Linked DNA regions of Homo sapiens. The protein of the gene in region 2 interacts with the protein of the main gene of each other region in a pairwise test. Each region holds a gene or a part of one and is shown on either strand. Other genes may lie near its edges. The genes, in order: THUMPD1 and NAT10.

Region 1 (10,325 bases), on a different chromosome or scaffold from region 2:
TAATCTTTCACAACACTCAGGCAACAGACAGCTTTGATGATTTCTACTACCACTGTGTACTGTGGATTGGTGAGATCCACTTTATTTTCTGAATTGAGGGTGCACACTATTCCTGTAACAAAAACAGAAAAACACATAGCTGAGGAGGATACCATTACATCTGATAGATACAAAAAATCTTTTGTCTCTGTTTCTTGTTAAAACAAGACATACAGTAATCCACTCTTCTATGTGGACTTCAAATAATCTGAACCCTTACAATAAATAAACACAAATGAAACCCTACAACATTTAATAAGAATTTTTTTCCAAACAAAATTCAATTTCGAGTTAAAAAAGACTTTTATCTAACTACCAGAAAATCTCATATCCGACATATTGAAATCAGTTGATTTAATACTATTTTAAGAACATTTTAATATATTTGTTCTACACTCAAAAATGTAAGCCTTAAATCTTTAAAAAGAAAAAAATCCTTAAAAAACAAGTATTTACCATTGAATGCCTATGGAAAATCACTAAGAGAAACATACCTGCCAATTCTCTGATAACTTCTTCTCTATTCACATGACTGTTATTTCGAGATTTGTACACAATCTGAAATGTCCCTTTGTTTGGAGCTTTAAACCAGGGTTCCAAAAATGTTTCTGCATATTTTTTCATATCTTCTAAAAAAGCCTTGCATGTGCCTGAGATGGGTAACATTCGCAAAATAACTCGAGTCTTCTTTTTCTTGGTTTTGTACATATCCTGGAGAATATGATGCACCAATTTCTCAGGCTCTTAAGAAAAAAAAAAAGTTAAGAAGATAATTTCTCAGACATCTTAAAGATCGAACTCTAAAATGAATTTTCACTGGCAATGACATAAGTTGACAGAAGAAATTCTCATAATGAATTTTAAATGAATCTACCTAGTCATTCTTTCCAAACAGTATTTCTTCAGTGCCTAATACGTACTATAATGTATCTAATATATTTTAACTTTTCATCATTATTACTGCTTGCACTAGAAATGACTGTTTAGGTAGACACCGTTGTTAACATTTTTGTGATGTCCTGAGTTATCCAACCGTAACACCATGCTGTTGTTTTCCTGTAACAACAGAGTACATTAAACAGTACACACTTTTTTACAAAAAAAAAAAAAAAAAATTCTGTGAGTCACTTTAAAAGATGTAATTAATCCATTAGCTAAGTTAGCACACAAGTCTAAATCTCAGACCCAAGAGGAATCCCAGAACCATGCTGGGCACAACATCATGAAAGGGAGGTCCTCAGGCTGCAACTTGCCTACATACAAGTATATTTGGGGCTGCTCCGAAAATTTGTAAATTAGTTGACCACACTGAAAAACAAAAAAACTCCAGATTTCAAACTTCTTTTGAGAAATTCAAATACCTGGCCCTGCATTCCCAAAGAGCAACAACTGGCTGGAGCTGAGTAGCAGCTGCCCCTTATTTACACAGAACTGGCACTCTAGTTCTGCCTTAAGTTATATACGAAGGAAGCAGCAAAGCCAGGTTTCCACTCATAAGCCAATGCTACGTCCACCACCCCATTCTACCTCTCCACAGGCCAACTGCTAATACAGTGTACAGAAGCTGCCATCAAATGATTAACTGAGTCATGCCCAAGAAGCCATTTTGTAAGCAGTATTCCCTGAGACAGGAAGATACCCAGATGTTATGAGATCGATAATCTTAGCAAGTATTTGTCACACCTATCCCAAGTGTCCTGATGAAGACAACGTTATTTGCTCCACTTTCCACTGACTGGAATCTTCTTAACCTCATCTCTGTAGATGCCTTAATGTCACCAACTTCTTTCTTCAAGGCAGCCTCCGCATCATCATCCTCTCCCTCACTTCCAGAGGGCTGCTGATCCTTGTCTGTAAACTGTTTGCATAAAACTAATGAGCAGAAATGACACAACAGCTCACATTTAAACACTATAAGTAATTATTTATGTGAAGTCCCTGGCGGCAGGTGGCTCAGTATTGATTTTTTTTTTTTTTCTAAAGATGGAGTCTCGCTTTGCCTCCCAGGCTGGAGTGCAGTGGTGCGATCTTGACTTGCTGCAACCTCCGCCTCCTGGGTTCAACCAATTTTCCTGCCTCAGCCTCCCAAGTAGCTGTGATTACAGGCGCATGCCACTACACACAGCTAATTTTTGTATTTTTAGTAGAGATGGGGTTTCGCCATGTTGGTCAGGCTGGTCTTAAACTCCTCAGGTGATCCACTCGCCTCAGCCTCCCAAAGTGCTGGGATTACAGGTGTGAGCTACCATGCCCAGCTGACTCAGTATTGATAATAAAGCTTTTTTTACGAAGCTGGGACACCACACCCTTCAAAACGTGGAGCAAGGCCGGAAGTGGTGGCTCATGCCCATAATCCCAGCACTCTGGGAGGCAGAGGCAAGCAGATCACCTGAGGTCAGAAGTTCGAGACCAGCCTAGCCAACATGGTGAAACCTTGTCTCTACTAAAAATACAAAAATTAGCCCGATGTGGTGGCAGACGCCTGTAATCCCAGCTACTCAGGAGGCTGAGGCAGGAGAATCGCTTGAACCCAGAAGGCAGATATTGCAGTGAGCTGAGATTGCACCACTGCACTCCAGCCTGGGTGACAGAGCAAGACTCTGTCTCAAAAAAATTAAAAAAAAAAAAAAAATGTGGAGGAAGAGGGAATTCCCGCAGACTATAGAATGTAAAATTTGAAAATGTTTTCAAAAGCATCCTGACAGTTTGAGGCAGAGAGAAACGTGCTGACCAGATCAATCATTTTAGGGTGGACCTTAACACGTTGACCAGGTATCTGTGTGCCTCACACGACACTGTCCTTTTGGTGAGATTAGACCAAATACCTGTGGAATTAAAAACCCTTACTCTTGTTCTATTAAGGAACAAGGCACAGAAATACATTGTTCAATAATTTTGGCCAAGCATGGTGGCTCATGCCTGTAATCCCAGTACTTTAGGGGGCAGAGGTGGGCGGATCCCTTGAGCCTAGGAATTTGACACCAGCCTGGACAACATGGCCTGAGAACCCGTCTCTACAAAAAATACAAAAAATTAGTCGGGCATGGTGGCACATGCCTGCAGTCCCTGCTACTCGGGGACTGAGGCAGGAGGACTGCTTCAGCCCCGGAGGTGGAAGTTGCAGTGAGCAAGAGCATGCCACTGTACTCCAACCTCCACCTTGGGTGACAGAGCAAGACCGCTTCCAAAAAAAGAATTTGCTTAAAGTACAGGAGTAGACAGGATATGTGCTTGTTGCCCAGCTCTCTGCCCCCTAGTGCCCAACGAAATTGCCAGTCAGGCACAATAATAATTGTATACATTTACAGAAACTTTATTACATACCAGTATGTATTTTATGTACATAAGCAACTCACTAGCCAGTCTTAAAGTATTCTCTTTTTTATCTAGCTCAGCAGCATCAAATAATGTGCCCATGTCCGAGTCCCCAAGCTAGTAGAGGATGAGCCGTGAATTTAAATTCCCTCTGTATTACCCTTCTTCATTTAATCCCTCAGTGTGCGTGTGTGTATTGGTCCAGATTCTAAGCCAGTAATATGATTTCCAAACACTAAGACTTTAGGTGATATTGGTAAAAGTTTTTACGTTCTAAAATGTATTTTAAGTGCAGTAACTAGCATTAGTAGTAAACCTATTATTTCAGAAATATTATTGCTTCAGGTAAACACATTATTACTCCAACTTCACGAGGCTGTCATGAAAAATGTGTTTCTGAAAGAGCTTCAGCACACCGCCTGGCCCTCAATGAGCAATCCTTAAGTGGGAGGTAGGCCGGGCTCAGTGGCTCGCGCCTGTAATCTCAGCACCTTGAGAGGCAGAGACGGGAGGATCGCTTGAGTGTAGGGTTTAGGACTACCCTGGGCCAAACAGTGAGACCCCTTATCTACAATTTACAAAACTTAGCCGAGAGTGGTGGCGCGCACTCATAGTCCCAGCTACTCTGGAGGCTGAGACAGGAGAAGTCGAGGCTTCCCTGAGCTATCATCACGCCACTGCACTCCAGCCTCGGCAACAGAGCGAGACCCTGTCTCACAAAAATAAAAATAAAAGTAATGGGAGCTACCGTGGTTACTGATGGCAAGAAAAGGTGCAAGCACTTCAAGCACAAAACCGATAGCACCGAAGTCTGCGAGCGTCTCAGGACTAGGGACGGAAACGCCGGCGAGGCCACGCCCCTACAGCCGTCACGCCGACGACCCGAGGCGCGCATGCCCATACCAGCAGCCATCCCTCCACCCTTCCCTCCTCCCGCAAGGCCTGGCAGCCGGCCCGCCCGCCCACCCCGGGACCGGTACCTTTTCTGGCCCATACATGTCGTCGCCGTATTCGTTGAGGAGGCTGTAGGCCTCCTCCACGCACTTGCGCTCGTTCATATTGCAGGTGATGAGGATGCCCTGTAGCCCGGGCTCTAGCTGACGGGGCCCGCCAGCGTCGCAGCGCCGAGCGCGCTTGGCCAGCACATACTGAGCCTTGCCTTTGCGCTTCCCGCCGCCAGGCTGAGTAGTCTGCTGGGCAGGGGCCGCCATGGTGTGCGCAAACTGAGAGGAAAGAGAAACGTTTCTCCGCTGCTGTTGGCGTCCTCGTCTATCGCCGGCGCGAACTGGTGACGTCGGATATGAGCGACGGCCTCCCCTAGCCGGCCTCGAAGCCTCATTCCGTGCTGCGCCAGGTCCTAAGGCCGGTCTGCAATCGTGAAAGGGGTGGAGTGATACCCGCCCAAGCCCCGCCTCCTGCCCCGCCTCCCGACTGCAACCTGAATCCAGTAGAGGCAGCATAGCAGCCATTCTGGAAGTGGTGTCGGTGGCTCCTCAAGCCCTTGAAGCTGGCTCCAGCCATATAGCTTCTTCCACCCAACCTTGGTACCTGTTCCTCCAGCCTTCCCTATAATTCTGCCAGCTACTGTGGAGGAAAAGTTAAATATTAAATTTGAACTCAATTGAACGTGGACACAATGGTCAAGTCCCGTAACAGGTTGCATGAGCCCCTTGAGGCATTCATTCATCCAGCACTGTTACAGATAACTCTGTACCTGTACTTGAGTTATTGAAAAACAGACAATCACAGAAACAAGTTGACCTTTATGTGTTCCTTGAGCCCAGTCGAGAAGGGCCCTCGTGACTGGGCCTCATGCCAATCAACGCATTACAAAAAGAGCCAGGGTCGGCCGGGCACGGTGGCTCACGCCTGTAATCCCAGCACTTTGGGAGGCCAAGGCAGGCAGATCACGAGGTCAGGAGATGGAGACCATCCTGACCAACATCTCTACTAAAATGCAAAAAATTAGCCAGGCGTGGTGGCGCGCACCTGTAGTCCCAACTACTCGGGAGGCTGAGGCAGGGGAATCACTCGAACTCGGGAAGCGGCGGTTGCAGTAAGCCGAGATCGTGCCATTGCACTCCAGCCTGGCAACAAAGCGAGGCTCTGTCTCAAAAAAAAAAAAAAAATGAGCCAGGGTCCCAGGCCACACGGAAGCTTCTTGAGACCCCTCCTCCTCTGTGCACGGACAAGTGGCTGACTCTGGAGCCCAGGCTGTTGCTTCCCGGTCTGGTGATGAATCCAACATAGTCTGGTGCGTGTAAATATATATATATATATATATATTTTTTTTTTTTCCCTTCTCCCCTTCCCATTGCAATTTGCTTACTATATCATTTGCTTATTATATCTGCATTGCCATTTACGTGGGATAAAGGTTGTTTACCCCCAAAGGTATTGTATGTTTGTCTATTTTTTTTTTTTTTTTTTGAGATGGAGTCTCGCTCTGTCGCCCAGGCTGGAGTGCAGTGGTGCGATCTGGGCTCACTGCAAGCTCCGCCTCCCAGGTTCACCCCATTCTCCTGCCTCCCTCCCGAGTAGCTGGGACTACAGGCGCCCGCCACCACGCCCGGCTAATATTTTTTATTTTTAGTAGAGACGGGGTTTTACCGTGTCAGTCAGGATGGTCTCAATCTCCTGACCTCGTGATCCACCCGCCTCGGCCTCCCAAAGTGCTGAGATTACAGGCGTGAGCCACCGCGCCTGGCCGTATTTTGTCTTGTTTTTTCCCCTCGCGCATTTCCCACATAGAACAGTTACTCAAAAGGCTTCCAGTAAATTCCATTTCAGCCTCAATTTTCCAGGCTATGTTTCTATTTCACTTAAAACCAAGGATGTTGGCTGGTGTTGTTTCATGCTGCTTTCGTTGCGGCCTTTTATCCATAGTCTTGGCAACTTATCATGTTACTGTCTTTTTAAAAATCATTGAAGATGCCACTTTTGAAGAATGTGTTTAAAAAACAAGTGCTTCTCATACTACTCTTCAGGTACAAACCTCTTAGCAGATTTGAGTTCCTACAAAGCCCTAAAAGATGTAATCTGATATTTTGAAAGGGACACCGAATTCACAGTCAATAAACCCTAGGTTCTAACCCCAGATCTACCACTATGTCCAAAAATTTTATCATCTTATTGTTTGCTTTTACCTGTGTATTCAATACAGCATTTAATTTTCAGAATTTCTTTGGTGGACACTGCACAGCAGAGATTTCTAGAAGTCCTCAGTTGTTTGTGAAGAGCAGTGTCATGACACTGGCATTGGCCTTCCCCCAAATCTCTCTCTCTTCTGCTGGCTGGGTTTCAGTTGCCCACACTCTGCCACCTGTCCTTAGGATATCAAATATTAGCATACAGATAACAAGTTAAAATATATATATTTCAAGTCCCAAGCATATTTGAGTACTATATGGAGGCAAACTTGAAAAACAAAAACTCAGTTTTGTTAAAATATGTGAGGAGGCAGCTTTAGGCTAAATTTAAGTTTGGCCTAAATCAAGCTTGTCCAACCTGTTGGCCCACAGTCAACATGTGGCCCAGGACAGCTTTGAAATTCAACCGGCCCAACACAAATTAATAAACTTTCTTAAAACACTCTGAGGTTTTTCTGCAATTAAAAAAAATTCATCTGCTATTGTTAGCATTAGTATATTTTATGGGTGGCCCAAGAGGATTCTTCTTCCAAGGAAGCCAAAAGATTGGACATCCCTGGCCTACAGGTTTCTCCATACATAGTGAACTATAACCTAATTGGATGTGTAAACAGACTGTAATGGCTGTTGTAACAAGTAGCCAAATCTCAGCCAAGCACAGAAGCCATGCTCAACCACTCACAGGTGGCTGATTGTTCAAACCATGTTTTTTATTTTTATGTTTTTTGAGACGGAGTCTTGCTGTCGCACAGGATGGAGTGCACTGGTGCAGTCTCGGCTCACTGCAACGTCCACTTACTGGGTTCAAGCGATTCTCCTGCCTCAGCCTCCCAAGTAGCTGGGATTACCTGTGCATGCCACCACGGCCAACTAATTTTTGTATTTTTAGTAGATATGGGGTTTCACCATGTTGGCCAGGCTGATCTTGAACTCCTGACCTCAAGAGATCTGCCCACTTCGCCTCCCAAAGTGCTGGGATTACAGGCATGAGCCACTGCGCCCAGCCAAACCACGTTTAAATAAGGCAAATACTGAGTTGTAACCTATTGGGCTGTTTCTGTACCTTACTTCCATTTCCTGCACCTCACTTTTCTTTTTATGTCCATAAATCATCTCTGACCATGTGGCAGCACCAGGATGTCTCTAAACCTATTCCGGTTAGTGGGTCAGGGGCCTGCCTGATTTGAGAATCCTTCCTTGTGCAATTTAATTCTGTTAAATTTAATTTGTCTAAAGTTTTTTAACAGTTTATTGTATTTCATGGTTGCTGACTGTGCAGAGAATATCCAATGAAGTGAGAAAAATATGCAACCCTGTAGCTCTCAGTCTAGACGTTAGTTATCTAAATCACACACTCATCCTGTGGCAGCTGCCGGGGCTGCGTCCACTTACTTCCTCTTCTGAAACAGGCCCTCGTCCAGCTCTAAATAACTCAGCCTTCATTTATTCCTTATTATTCTTCTTTGTTCTTTTTTGCTTATTCTTTAGACTACATCTATTATTTCATGGCTGTGTGAACTTTCACCTCCTTAGGTTACCTCCCAGACATGGACAATGGCCCAGTGTCTATCCTTAGACACCAGGGACTCTGTCGCTTGAAAACCTCTCTTAGAAGGGACCACTTGGGGCCAGGCACGGTGGCTCACGCTTGTAATCCCAGCACTTTGGGAGGCCAAGGAGGGTAGATCACTTGAGGCCAGTTCAAGACCAGACTGGGTAACATGGCAAAACCCCATCTCTACTAAAAATAAAAAAATTAGTTGGGCATGGTGGTGCATGCCTGTAATCCCAGCTATTTGGGAGGCTAGACACGAGAGTTGCTTGAACCTGGGAGGCAGAGGTTGCAGTGAGCTGAAATCGTGCCACTGCACTCCAGCCTGGGCAAAATAGACTCTGTCTCAAAATAAATAAATAAATAAATAAATAAATAAATAGAGACCACTTGGCACCTTGTGGCACCATCTAGAGTAGATTAAGGTGATCTGAGGATGTTACCTTTTGTTTTAATTAACCTATTTGCTTCAGATATTCAGAAGGCCTCACAGCCAAGCAAGGGGGGAATGGTGTGACACATTCTAGATTCCCTTTCTGTTTCTCTTCCTAACCTTCAAAGTTACTGTCCCTGAAGTTCTACTTGTATGTTCAGTACAGAACCCAGGTAGGAGATGCTCTTAGACACTCCTCGTGTTCTGACCTTGCTCCCCATCCACACTTCCTGCCTTAGTCTCTTGTTACCCAGCATCTTCAGGGAATGGATATCCTGGCTGTGAATCCCAGTCTCCTTCTGACTTGATTCCCAATATCTGCTGCCTTCAGAGTAGGTATCAAGTACGATTAAAAGCCCAGGTTCTAAAGCCAAACCAAGTTCAAATTCTGCTTTGGCCATGACCTGGCTGTGAAACTCTGAGTAAGTTACCCAAGCCAAGGTTTAGATTCCCTGTTAGATTTAAAAATAATAATAATGGAAATAATAATACTCACATCATGGGTTATTAGGAAAATCCAGTAAGATCAGTCATGACAAGTGCTTAGCTCTCAGCCACTGTTCAGTCAACATGTGCTTAAAAACAGCTGCTTTCAGACTCAGTCGTGAATCATGGAAGCCTGTTTTTTTCTTTTTGATGTAAGTATCCATCCCTCAGTCTGATCACCTAACCTCATTATTTGTCTATTATTCTCTAATTTAATGGTTCTTTTATATTTTTGGTTTACTAAAAGCTGTTGAATCCTTTTACTTAGGAGACTAAAAGGGGTTTTATTTTATTGTTCTATAGACCTCCTCTGTGGAAAAGGGGAATTTAAAAGTATATATAGCGTAAAGTAAAATAACATAAAATGCGTAAGACTGGCATGCCTTACCTCTGCCAGCTGGTTTCTGCCTCACATTTGATTGAATGACATCCCACCTTTCACTAGCTTTGTAGCCTCACTGGCAGCACTTGTCACATTTGTGCTTTCATTACACCCAGACGCTGTGTGAGAAACTCACCCAACAGCCTGATCACCCAGGCTGGAACCCAATTTTAAACCAATGTGAACTTGAGTCTGCCCCTAGAGGAGTCAAATTTGGCCTGGCCTTTGTACCTACTCAGCCCTGCTGAGTGTCCTATACTGATCCCCATCACCTCTAATTCATTTCATTCCACCAGTGCCTGGGTCCCAGTTTTGACAGATATGTTTCTCTATGGCAAACTTGGCACTTTGAGGGCCTATGTTCTTAAGGGCAAAAGTCATTAAATCTCTTTCCCTCCAATTTTATCTTTCAATTTTATACTCTAAACATACAAGTCTTTCTTCTTAAACTTTTCCTGGTGTTTTGTGGGTACTTCCTTCCCACTCCTTTGAGATTTGGTTGAATAATCTATGTTCCAAAGTAATTGTTTTGAAGCAGGAGATATAAAAAAAAAAACAAGTTTTCTTGGAGGCTGACTCACTGCAAGGCCCAGCGATAGACAGGGCTCTGGAAGGGCTTTGATAACACTATCTGCAGAGCCAGGGCCCTCAAGGGATGGGTTCCAGAGCCTCTCCCTGCCATCCCAGAGCAGGGATGAGAAAAACAAGTTTTTCTTCTCTTTCAGCTTCCGCCTTCCCCCTTATCATTCTCATAATTATTTTGCAAAGTTTTATAAGTTCCTGTTTTTCCCTTCTGTACAGCATGGCAAGGTCACAAGATATGCTTCAGTTGCAAAACCTGTCACTGTTTAACAAACTGCCTTTGTTCTGCTTCTGTAAGCTGCTTACCCACCCTACAGGTTTCACACCATCAAACTGGCCAACCCCCTTTCAAATTCATGTATAAAAGTCAAGCCCTGTCTTTGTTCA
Region 2 (10,332 bases):
CGTGGCCCTCTCCTCATCCTCCCAGGCTTGCTCTTTAGCACTGAGGTGTTTCAGGCCATCCTTAAATGGGGAATTCCAAACCCAACCCCCATATGATCACCAGTCACACAGGGAAAAAATACAAATGAATTCATCTTTTGTCACTAGGAAAAAGAAAAAAAAGGAAGAAGGTGAAAGGAAAGCTCCCCAAAGAAATACAATACAAACGTTCTTGCAAGCAGGGAAAAAAATGCGTTTGACTATAAAATTCAAACATCCTCCCACTGCAAGAAAAGGATTTCATAGGCTTCTGTTGTATTCAGTAGCACACAGCTGCTCCTCCTGATCTGCTCATTCTACTGACTTAGTGCATCACAGATGGTTAAAATGAGAAAGGCCCCCAGGGTTCATCAAGGCTCGGATTTCTACACCTCAGCACTACTGACATTTTGGACCAGATAATTCTTTGGTGTGGAGCTGTCCTGTGCACCACCAGTTGTTCAGCAGCATCCCTGGCCTCTACCCACCGGATGCCCACGGCACCCACCACCACCCTCCCAAAGTCATTACGATCAAAACATTTCCAGACATTGCCAAATGTCCCCAGGGGGCCAAATGGCTCCAGATGAGAACCACTGATTTAGGTCAAAATTTCCTAAGGTGTTTCACAGGGTGCTAACTGGTGTTCCCACACCCCTCAAAAAAATAAATTTTTTTGGTAAAATAAATTTGGGAAACAATCAGTTAAACAGGTCCCTGCTGCTGCAAGACTTTTCAGAGATTACAACAGGCTGGGGCAAATCTTCATAAAGGAAAAAACGGTATAGGTGTTTCCCAGACATATATGGCCAAACCCTCCTCATATGTTCCCTCTTAAAAGACTAGTGTTCTATGATCGGGCACGGTGGCTCACGCCTGTAATCCCAGCACTTTGGGAGGCCAAAGTGAGCAGATCACTTGAGGTCAGGAGTTCGACACCAGCCTGGCCAACACAGTGAAAACCCCACCTCTACTAAAAATACAAAAAATGGCCAGGCACGGTGGCTCATACATGCAATCCTAGCACTTTGGGAGACTGAGTGGGGCAGATCACTTGAGGTCAGGAGTTCAGGACCAGCCTGGCCAACATGGTGAAACCTTGTCTCTACTAAAAATACAAAAATTAGCCAGGCATGGTGGTGGGCTCCTGTAATCCCGGCTACTTGGGAAGCTGAGGCACAAGAATTGCTTGAATGCGGGAGGCAGAGGTTGCAGTGAGCCAAGATCGTGTCTCTGTACTCCAGCCTGGGCAACAGAGCGAGACTCTGTCTCAAAAAAATAATAATAATAATACAAAAAATTAGCCGAGTGTGGTGGCGGGCACCTGTAATCCCAGCTACTCGGGAGGCTGATACAGGAGAATCACTCGACCTGGGAGGCAAAGGTTGCAGTGAGCCAAAATCGCACCACTACACTCCAGCCTGGGCAACACAGCAAGACTCCATCTCAAAAAAATAAATAAATAAAATAAAAATAAATACATACAAATTTAATTTCAGATAACAAACCGTACACCATATTTGAAATTATGGGTGTTCCTTTGCTCAGAAGAAACACTTTGTCGCCTTTTTCTGCCTCTAATTACATCTCACCCCACCTCCCATATTTCTCTTAATCATTTTTACTATGCCAGTACGTCATATTCATAATAAAAAGTTTGGAAAGACTACTGCTCTATGAAATATCTTCTGGGAAGCAGTGATCCAGAAAAATCACTCATTTAAAAGATGAGTAAGCTAAGAACCAGAGAGAGTAACCTGGTTTAACTGAGCTGTCAAGGCCAGCAGCAAGACAAAATTGAGGTTTCCTGGCTCCAACTTTCCACCACGTTTCACTGCTTCCAGTTAGTCTCACAACTGCTGCTGCTGTCAAGAATCTCATCATTTTTGGAATATTGTACTACTTTCCCCAATATAAAAGCAAAGTTTTCAGTTGAGTCCAAGATAAAAATGTCCCTCCCAATGTGGCTGCCCCACAATTGGGGGGAACTATAGAATTACCTTTCATTAAATCTTCCCACCACATCCTGATGGGCCTCAGTTCTGTACCTGGAATGCACATCCTAACAAAGAAAGACAACATCCATTAACAAAGGCATGCAAACAGTGCTGAGGACCAGGGTCCAAATACAAAGCTCTATCCAAGGAGACATGGGCAATCTTGCTGGAAACAAAATCACTCCCACACACACTGCTGTGCCAAATGGTATTTGCTGAAACTGGGATCAGACACTGAATGCAACGTTGCTTATTAAAATCTTTCACTTTTCCACATTTTTCCTAGCATCCTAAGTTATATTCATTTATTTCATAAAATTGGCATGCTGTGTGCCAGATATGCTGTGCATACACTAATGAACAAAGCATGACCTCTGTTCTCATGGCACTTGGAGTATAATGGATGGAGGAAGAAAAATTAGTAGATAAATACAAATTTTGACAAATGCTACATATGAAATATAGACTGCACGGATAGCAAGTGGGGGTCACTTATGTAGGGTAGTGAGGGAGGGCCTCTCTGAGATAAGCTGAGGCCTGAAGGGTAAGTAGGTAGCTATGTCAGAGGGAGAGGAAGAACAAACTGATGTGAGCACAAAGTCATTCATTCACTCTCAACTATCTAAGGAATGCTTACTAAATGCCAGGAACTCTTCTAAGATCTGGAAATGCAACAGCAAAGAAAACTAACTCTCTGTTCCCATCAAATTTATTTACTTATTTATTTATTTTGAGACGGAGTCTTGCTCTGTTGCCCAGGCTGGAGTGCAGTGGCGTGACCTCAGCTCACCGCAACCTCCGCCTCCTGAGTTCAAGCAATTCTCCTGCCTCAGCCTCCCTAGTAGCTGGAATTACAGGTGTGCACCACCACACCTGGTTAATTTTTTTTGTATTTTTGGTAGAGACGAGGTTTCACCATGTTGGCCAGGCTGGTCTCAAACTCCTGACCTCAGGTGATCCGCCCACCTCAGGCTCCCAAAGTGCTAGGATTACAGGCGTGAGCCACTGTGATCGGCCCTCCAGTGAAATTTAGAGACTAGTACAGGAGGACAGACAAATAATAATAATAACTTTAGGTCATTGTCAAGTGCTTTGAAGAAAAATAAAGCCGGTTAAGGAGTGACAGGCGGAGCTGCCTACTGTAAACAGGGTGTGAGGAAAGACCACATGGATGAGGTGATATCTGAGCAGGGGCTTGAATGCAATGAGGAAGCGAGCCAGGCAGAGGTCCAGAGGAAGCACATTCCAGTGGGAACAGCAAGTGCCGAGGCCCTCGCAGGAGTGTGTGCTGGGCATGTCTGAGGACATTTGAGGAGGCCAAAAGGGCTGTAGTGCAAGTGATGAAGGGAGAAGTAATGACAGGAAACAGCCCCTAAGATTTGAGGAAAGTCCATTTCATCAGATAAATGCAGCTCAGGAAACCCTAAGTCCAATCCGACCACCATTACTGAGCTGCTGGACATGGGCATGACTTAAAACTTGCCTCTGAACACTGACTTGGCAACGCTGATAAAGTGAGGAGACCAGCTCTGCATCAGGTGAGACATATCCCTAATTCCTCACCATGTCCTCAGTCAGTGTCTTTTGCTTTGGGAGAACACAATCTCTGCTGGAGTTGAAATTCTTGCCAAACTGGAGTACAACTGGCAAATGTTCCTTCGTCATCCATTAGGATAAGGGCCAGTGAGCAGTCTGCACATGGTCCTTTTTTTGCAATACACAAATTTAGGCACTGGCATTGCTCCTTGTACAATATCATTCCAGAAAATTTAACTACATAAAAGCTGTATCATATCTGAATCTCACTGGTGTAGAATTTGCAAGTGCCTGAAAACAAAGGTGAAATTCAGAGATTCCTAGGCATACTCATGGACCCTGAGATTTAACTGTAGTGACTTTTTCATTAGTTAAAATCAAAGAGCTCTTAGCCCAGAGGCTGTGCTGACTACTCACTGGAGCTGCCCAACAGGAATTCTTTAAAGAAAGCAGAACACAGCAAAAACAGATTTACTTGAACCCTCACAATTAAGTTAAAAAACAGATGCTTACCATAGTCACTGTGTACAATTGCTTGAGTGAGTTCATGGTCCGTAGGAGGATGACCACTAGCCCACCACCTTCCACTGTTTCTACAGTCCTGGCCAGCAAGTTTGGAGTTAAGGCTTCAAAATCCTGGAAGAAGGGGGCGTTAGAAAGGGCTGGTCATGCAAATAGCAACCCAAAGGACTTTTTTTTTTTTTTTTTTTTTTTTGAGATGGAGTCTTGCTCTGTCGCCCAGGCTGGAGTGCAGTGGCGCAATCTTGGCTCACCACCCACCTGAGCCTCCCAAAGTGCTGGGATTACAGGCATGAGCCACCGCGCCTGGCCCAACCCAAGGGACTCTTAACCAAAAGCCAGGTGATAAGGCAAAAAGAAGACTTCAGAGCACAAAGCCAAGACCATACCTGTTCCCACCTTGACTTCCCAGGATACACACACAGGGGTACCACAGAAGAGGGCCAAACCCTCGAATATACGAATACCTGGTTTTATATGCCAAAAACGGGTCTCTTATTAGAGACGTTGTTAGTTTTATATGTCAAAAATGTCTCTGATAAAATCCTATTTGGAAACAAATTTTCCAACCTTCACTGATTCATACTTGAATTTCAGAAACATCTTACATTTTCTGACATTTATAGCTCAAACCTGTTTGACAAAACTATACTACATGGGGGAGCTACTGCTCACAGGAGTCATTATTCAGGCAATTGATCATGGCAGCAAGTAGAAGACCACTCCCTACCAATCAGTGATAACCCAGGGCATTTCCCTGAGTAAAGGTGAAAATGAGGCATAATGCCCTCTTTCTTGGCCTCCAAGGTGAGATGCAAGCCAGCAGTATAGGAGACAACCCATATTTTGCAAGGTATGTAACTTGACATAATAATGGGCACAGTTGTAAGTGTATATGATAAACACACAAAAATGTGAGGATTTGTGCTTAATTTTGTCTTGTCTTTTTTGGGAGAATGGGGAAGGGAGGTGGCACAGGAATCAAAGAAACAAAGAATAAAACAAAGACCACCAGTGCTTACACACACATGCACACACACACACACAAAGTGAAACTTAGTCTATTAACTTGCCAGGCAAGAGAATACACACCAGTGCAGAAATTCACCAAGTAGTCTCTGAGAGGTAAAGTGAGGGGTTTTTAAGGGCTAGAAAAGGGGAGAGGGGCCTTCATGGTGGGTATGCCACTCAGGCACTCTGGACAGGACATTTAAGTGCATTGGTCTATATCCGGTTGGAAAACAAGTCCCATTGCTCACTGGACAAAAAAAGTCTTTGGTGAATGCCAATAAGGACCTAGGGTCCTAGAGGCACTCAAAGTCTCTGGCATTTGCTTTATCAGCTTTAGCTAGTTAGAACCCGTTATAATAACTCATCACTTCAGTTCTGGTGTCTCTAGACAAGTGCTGATTTAAAATTCTCTTTTTATATGGGGTAGGTGACCGAGTGTACTTTGGAAAGTGGCCAGGACTTCCACTAATAATGCTTGGGCATAGGGAACATGGGACTCTCCTCTCCTTACTGTACATCTGTTCCCAGTGGAAAGCCAGGCAGCCCAAGCAACCCTCAAGACTCTGACTTCAATCACAGGTTAGAGGAAGCCACCCACCTGCAGCACACACATGCCGAAGGTATTGCCCAGGATCTTGTGGGTCTCGTTGTAGTAGCAGTAGCGAATGTTTGTGGCTGCTATGAAGAGTTCAAAGGGGTCGTCCTGCTTTATGTTCAGTGTTCCATTCTTTATTTTCTTCTGCAGCTGTCGCATTCTTTTCTTCCGGTGACTGCAATCACACACCCCCAATCCCATGAGAGCCAGTTAACCAGAGCAGCTAAAGAGCTGGAACCAGGGGAAAGGCTCAGTGATCACCCACTTAGACTTTCAGAGCTAGTAGGGAACTTGAAAGTGTGAGGCCCACTTCAGGTGGAGGGCAGTGGAGAGGCATGAGAGGCATTAGAGTGCTTAAGGGCTTGGAGTAAGTGATAAGTCTATGTGTGAACTCTGCTATTTTGCCCTGTGACCTTGAGCAAATACTTTGCTTTAAAAGATGGGTAATAGGGTAGCTAACCCTCACATTTGGCCAAAGCCAGAGCTTGAAACCAAACCTGAGTGGCCTCATTATCTCAGTCATAAGCCAATGCTTCAACTACACTGTGCTGTTCCCCAGAGATCCTAGGAAAGACAAGGTGATGGCACGTTACTTTATTCATCCTTCCTAGAGGACTTCCTCCCCGAGAATGTGGGATTATGTCTTCAAGGGCAGGTCTTACATAAGACAATAATGATACAGGACACAGGGATCAGAATGGAATCTGGACATCTCTAAGGAATTCCTGAATTTTTTTGGTCTTAAAAACCCTGCATATCCAGTTGCTACTTACCTTTCCTTTACCAAAAGAGAGAATTAGAATGTTCTAGAATGGAGGATTACAGCTGATCAAAATTTTACCATAGTTCTCTAACTTAATAGCTAGAACAAAGGCCTTTCCTCCTGTGGGCCTCCACTTCCTCATCTATGAACCAAGGCAGTGGGTGAGTTTGTCTCCACTGTCCCTTCTGGCTCAGGCCTTAAGCCCGTGACTTACAAACAGGCATTAGCTTGAACACAATGCTCTGCCAGACTAAGACAGGGGTGGGGCAGAAGAGCTATAAGAGGTACAAAAGTAGATTTTTAGAAGTGAAGCCAGGTGGTTTAAATTCAAAAGGCAAATCTGCCCAGAAGACTTTGAACTGCCTAATTCCACACCCATCTCATATTTGCCAAATGAAAAATAGTGAAAACCAGAAGCCCTAAAAACTTAAAATTCTGGGATAGACAACAGGCCTTATTCTCAATCTGTATTAAAAATGCCTACCTCTCTAAATATGAGAGTATATACAACAGAATACCAATTATGGTTCAAAACTACATCCCTGTAAGATACACCTAGATGCTGACAATGCCTAGACAGTGAGATGTTTTTTATTTTCATCTTTGGGTTTTCTGCACTTTTCACATTTCATCAGTAAGGCTCTTATGATTGTCTGGTTTCCTTTAGGCAGAATCCCTTCACTTTAAGACCACAGGACAGGGGCAAGTTTAGCCTCTGGTACTAATTTAAATTAAAATAATTTTAGAGCCTGTTAACAACACATCCAACTCAATGTATACTGAGTACCTATGATAAACATGCTAAATCAGTTAAAAGTATGAAAATACAAAGATAAATAGAAGAGGGCTCCTAACTAAATAAGCTTATCACCTGAAAGTAAAAAAAAAAAAAAAAAAAAAAAAAGGGAAAGAAAAAAAAATGAACGTAAGTCACAGTATGTAAGTGACTTTACCCTAAAGCAAAAGCATCCATTGGCAAACATTATAGGAGAAGGACAAGTGCAGAGGAAGGTAGAGGAACCACCAGGTATGACTGGGGGGCTCAGGAAAAGTTTCACGGAGGAGGCAGGCCCTGAGAAACAGGATTTCAATAGGTGATACCGGGGAGGTGGAAGTGGCATTCCAAGCAGAGGAGACAGCATGAGCAAAGAAAAGGAGGGAGGTTAGTCACAGCATAAAGCAACCAGAGCTGGAGACAGGCTTTCAGAGTCAGATCGGAGATGAGCACATTTGGAAATTAGAAGAGGCTCAAGGACAGAATCGCACAAGCCAGCTAGGTTTAGAGTAAGGAGACGAGATCCAGAGAAAGAGAAGAGCTCCGGAAGGTGGTCTGAGTAAAGACACTGAAGCCAAAAAAGGAGACTATTTCTTAGGTGATGCCATGGTGGTTATCTGCCAAGGAACAGCACTACCCACCCCATCCAAACTTCTCCAAACACAAAGTTGTAGGTAGAACTTCCAACTTTGTATTATGCTATGACCAACCCCACCCTCCTCTGGCCAGGTGTGGGCATTTTTCCACCAGAATTTTGGGAAAAAGTCTGATTTCCACATGGCTGGGCCTGAAACAAGGAAAACGCAAGTGTTGTTTCTGCTAGGGGGACAACAGAAAACAGAAAGCTGGTCTGCAGTGAGAAAGTTGGTCTGCATAGAGCAGATACACTGAGATGACAAACTGAGCTGGGAGCATTAGTACTGTGACTCTAGATCACCCGTGAGCAGAGCTGAAATCTTATCCCCTTGGATTCCAGGAAATATCCCATATACCTCAATGAAATCCCTTTGTGCCAAATTGTATTTGTGTTGAAAGTATGTTATCTATGACTAAAAGTCTTGACTACCACAGCTTCAAATAGCCAACTGTCAAATACAGCAGTGAACTGGTAGAAGAAGAGGCAGAGCTCTGAAAAGGAGGAGAAAGAGAGAGAAAAGTTGACGCATTAGGCATCAAGCTGCTGGGGATGTCTAACTGCACAATTTGATCACAATTATAGAAGCAGAAACCAGACTGCAAAAGTGGCTACTAAGTGCAAAAGATTTCTGTTTTAAGGTATATGGCAATAAAAATCGGGGGAAATGCTAACCTGAGAGAGAAATCTGGGTATGTAAGTAATCAGCTTTTGATAATAGAAAAATCTGAGCATGTTTACAGGAAGGAGAAAGTTTCCAAAGGGTATTGGGTGGCCAGCAGAGGAAAGACAATACAGGTCCTGAAAGAGGTGAGGGAGGAGACACAGGGTACATAAAGGGGTTTTCCTTGGACATGGGATGAGGCATATACCCCCTCCATGAAAGAAGGGGAGAAAAAGAGAGAGAGTGAAAAGTGGAATAAATTTGAGGTAGGAAAGACAGTTTGAAGGAACTTGCAATGAGATGGGCTTAATCAGCCTAGAAAAGCAGGAAGGAAAACCATATGCAGAAGGCAAGGCATTGGATTGGTGACTTAAAAAGCATGAAAATGATTTGAAACTTATTTTCAGGAATGAAGAAAGGATATCAGCTCCATTTGTCCTCAGAGATAGCACCTCCACTAAAGACCCTTAAAAAATATGTGAAGGAATCATTTCCTGGCATTTAACTAATGAGCAGGAATTGTAAGTTGGATAAAACACATGAAGAGCCCAGCTTACCTGCTAAACCCCAGCTCTTTCTTATAACACCACAGCACTGAAGGCCGAGCCTTCACAGTTGCTTTGGATAACATGTGATGAAGTATTACCACCTGCCAAACAAAAAAGTCACAGAATTTCAGGCACAAAAGAGACTTTAGAGACCGCCAGGCTTAAGACCTCATTTGACGGATGTGGAAACTAAACTGAGGGCCAGGGAAGGGAAGTGCCCAAGGTTCTAAGGCGAGCAATGACCAGGTTTGGACTAGAAGCCAGGTCACATACAGTTCACTTTGTGGTCAACCCACCACCCCAGGCTTCAAAAGGTATTAGCTTGTCTGCGAATCAATCTAAATACAGAGAATTCACCACTTCCAGGAAATAAAGAAAGGTTCCCACTAGGCATCTTACCAGCCAAAGAGATCTTAATGCCATTATGTCCTGAAACAGCAGAGTGCTTAAACATGCTGATTCTTTGGACAAGATAAAAAGTAATTCAGGAAGCATTTACCAGGCCATACCTGATCTTTTCCTCGATCCCCAACTACAACAAAGAGAGATCTTTGCCGCTCAGCTACTCCATTCTCAATGAGAATCCGGATTCGGTTATCCACCTTTTTCCGATGCATGGTGAAAAATTATTACTAAAAGAGAAAGAAATACAACTGGCCATGCGCACTAGATTGTCTAAGGAACATTAGCTGGCTGCCTTTTGTGGGGCCTGGGACTGTGCTAGGCATATCTATAAGTATTGTCTTACTTAACCCTCTACGAGCTCCACAGGAAGACATCAGCCTCTAGTTTTAAACTCAGGAAACCTTAGGCTTGGGAGGTGAGAAAACCTTCCCTCAGCCTGGAAAGCCTGTAATTCACCTCTATTAAATATTTTTTAAAAGCCAGAAACTTGTATATTCAAAAAAGTAGAAGAATGACTAAAATACATAAGGAGATATCCAAATATCCAAAGCATTGTTTGTTTTTGAGACGGAGTCTCACTCTGTCGCCAGGCTGGAGTGCAATGGCATGATCTCGGCTCACTGCAACCTCTGCTTCCTGGGTTCAAGCAATCCTCCTGCCTCAACCTCCCAGGTAGCTGGGACTACAGGCGCATATGTTGGCCAGGATGGTCTCGATCTCTTGACCTCGCAATCTGCCCACCTCAGCCTCCCAAAGGGCTGGGATTACAGGTGTGAGCCACCATGCTGGGCCAAGCATTTTTAACAACTAAGGATATGGATATAGATGCTTATGACAAGATCATGACAGAATAAAGTATGATAACAT

Evidence for each region.
Region 1: the proteins of NAT10 (region 2) and THUMPD1 interact in binary tests that used the Homo sapiens proteins (3 or more experiments, as listed by UniProt).

Annotation. Positions count from the first base shown.
Region 1 is NC_000016.10:20,737,175-20,747,499, forward strand, and holds the start of THUMPD1 (THUMP domain-containing protein 1), read right to left. Parts: upstream 4,645-10,325; 5' UTR 4,566-4,644; coding exon 4,335-4,565; intron 1,898-4,334; coding exon 1,723-1,897; intron 783-1,722; coding exon 534-782; intron 113-533; coding exon 1-112. UniProt on the Homo sapiens protein: Functions as a tRNA-binding adapter to mediate NAT10-dependent tRNA acetylation modifying cytidine to N4-acetylcytidine (ac4C).
Region 2 is NC_000011.10:34,107,571-34,117,902, reverse strand, and holds part of NAT10 (RNA cytidine acetyltransferase), read right to left. Parts: intron 9,693-10,332; 5' UTR 9,678-9,692; coding exon 9,570-9,677; intron 9,162-9,569; coding exon 9,070-9,161; intron 5,852-9,069; coding exon 5,680-5,851; intron 4,188-5,679; coding exon 4,065-4,187; intron 2,081-4,064; coding exon 2,019-2,080; intron 1-2,018. UniProt on the Homo sapiens protein: RNA cytidine acetyltransferase that catalyzes the formation of N(4)-acetylcytidine (ac4C) modification on mRNAs, 18S rRNA and tRNAs.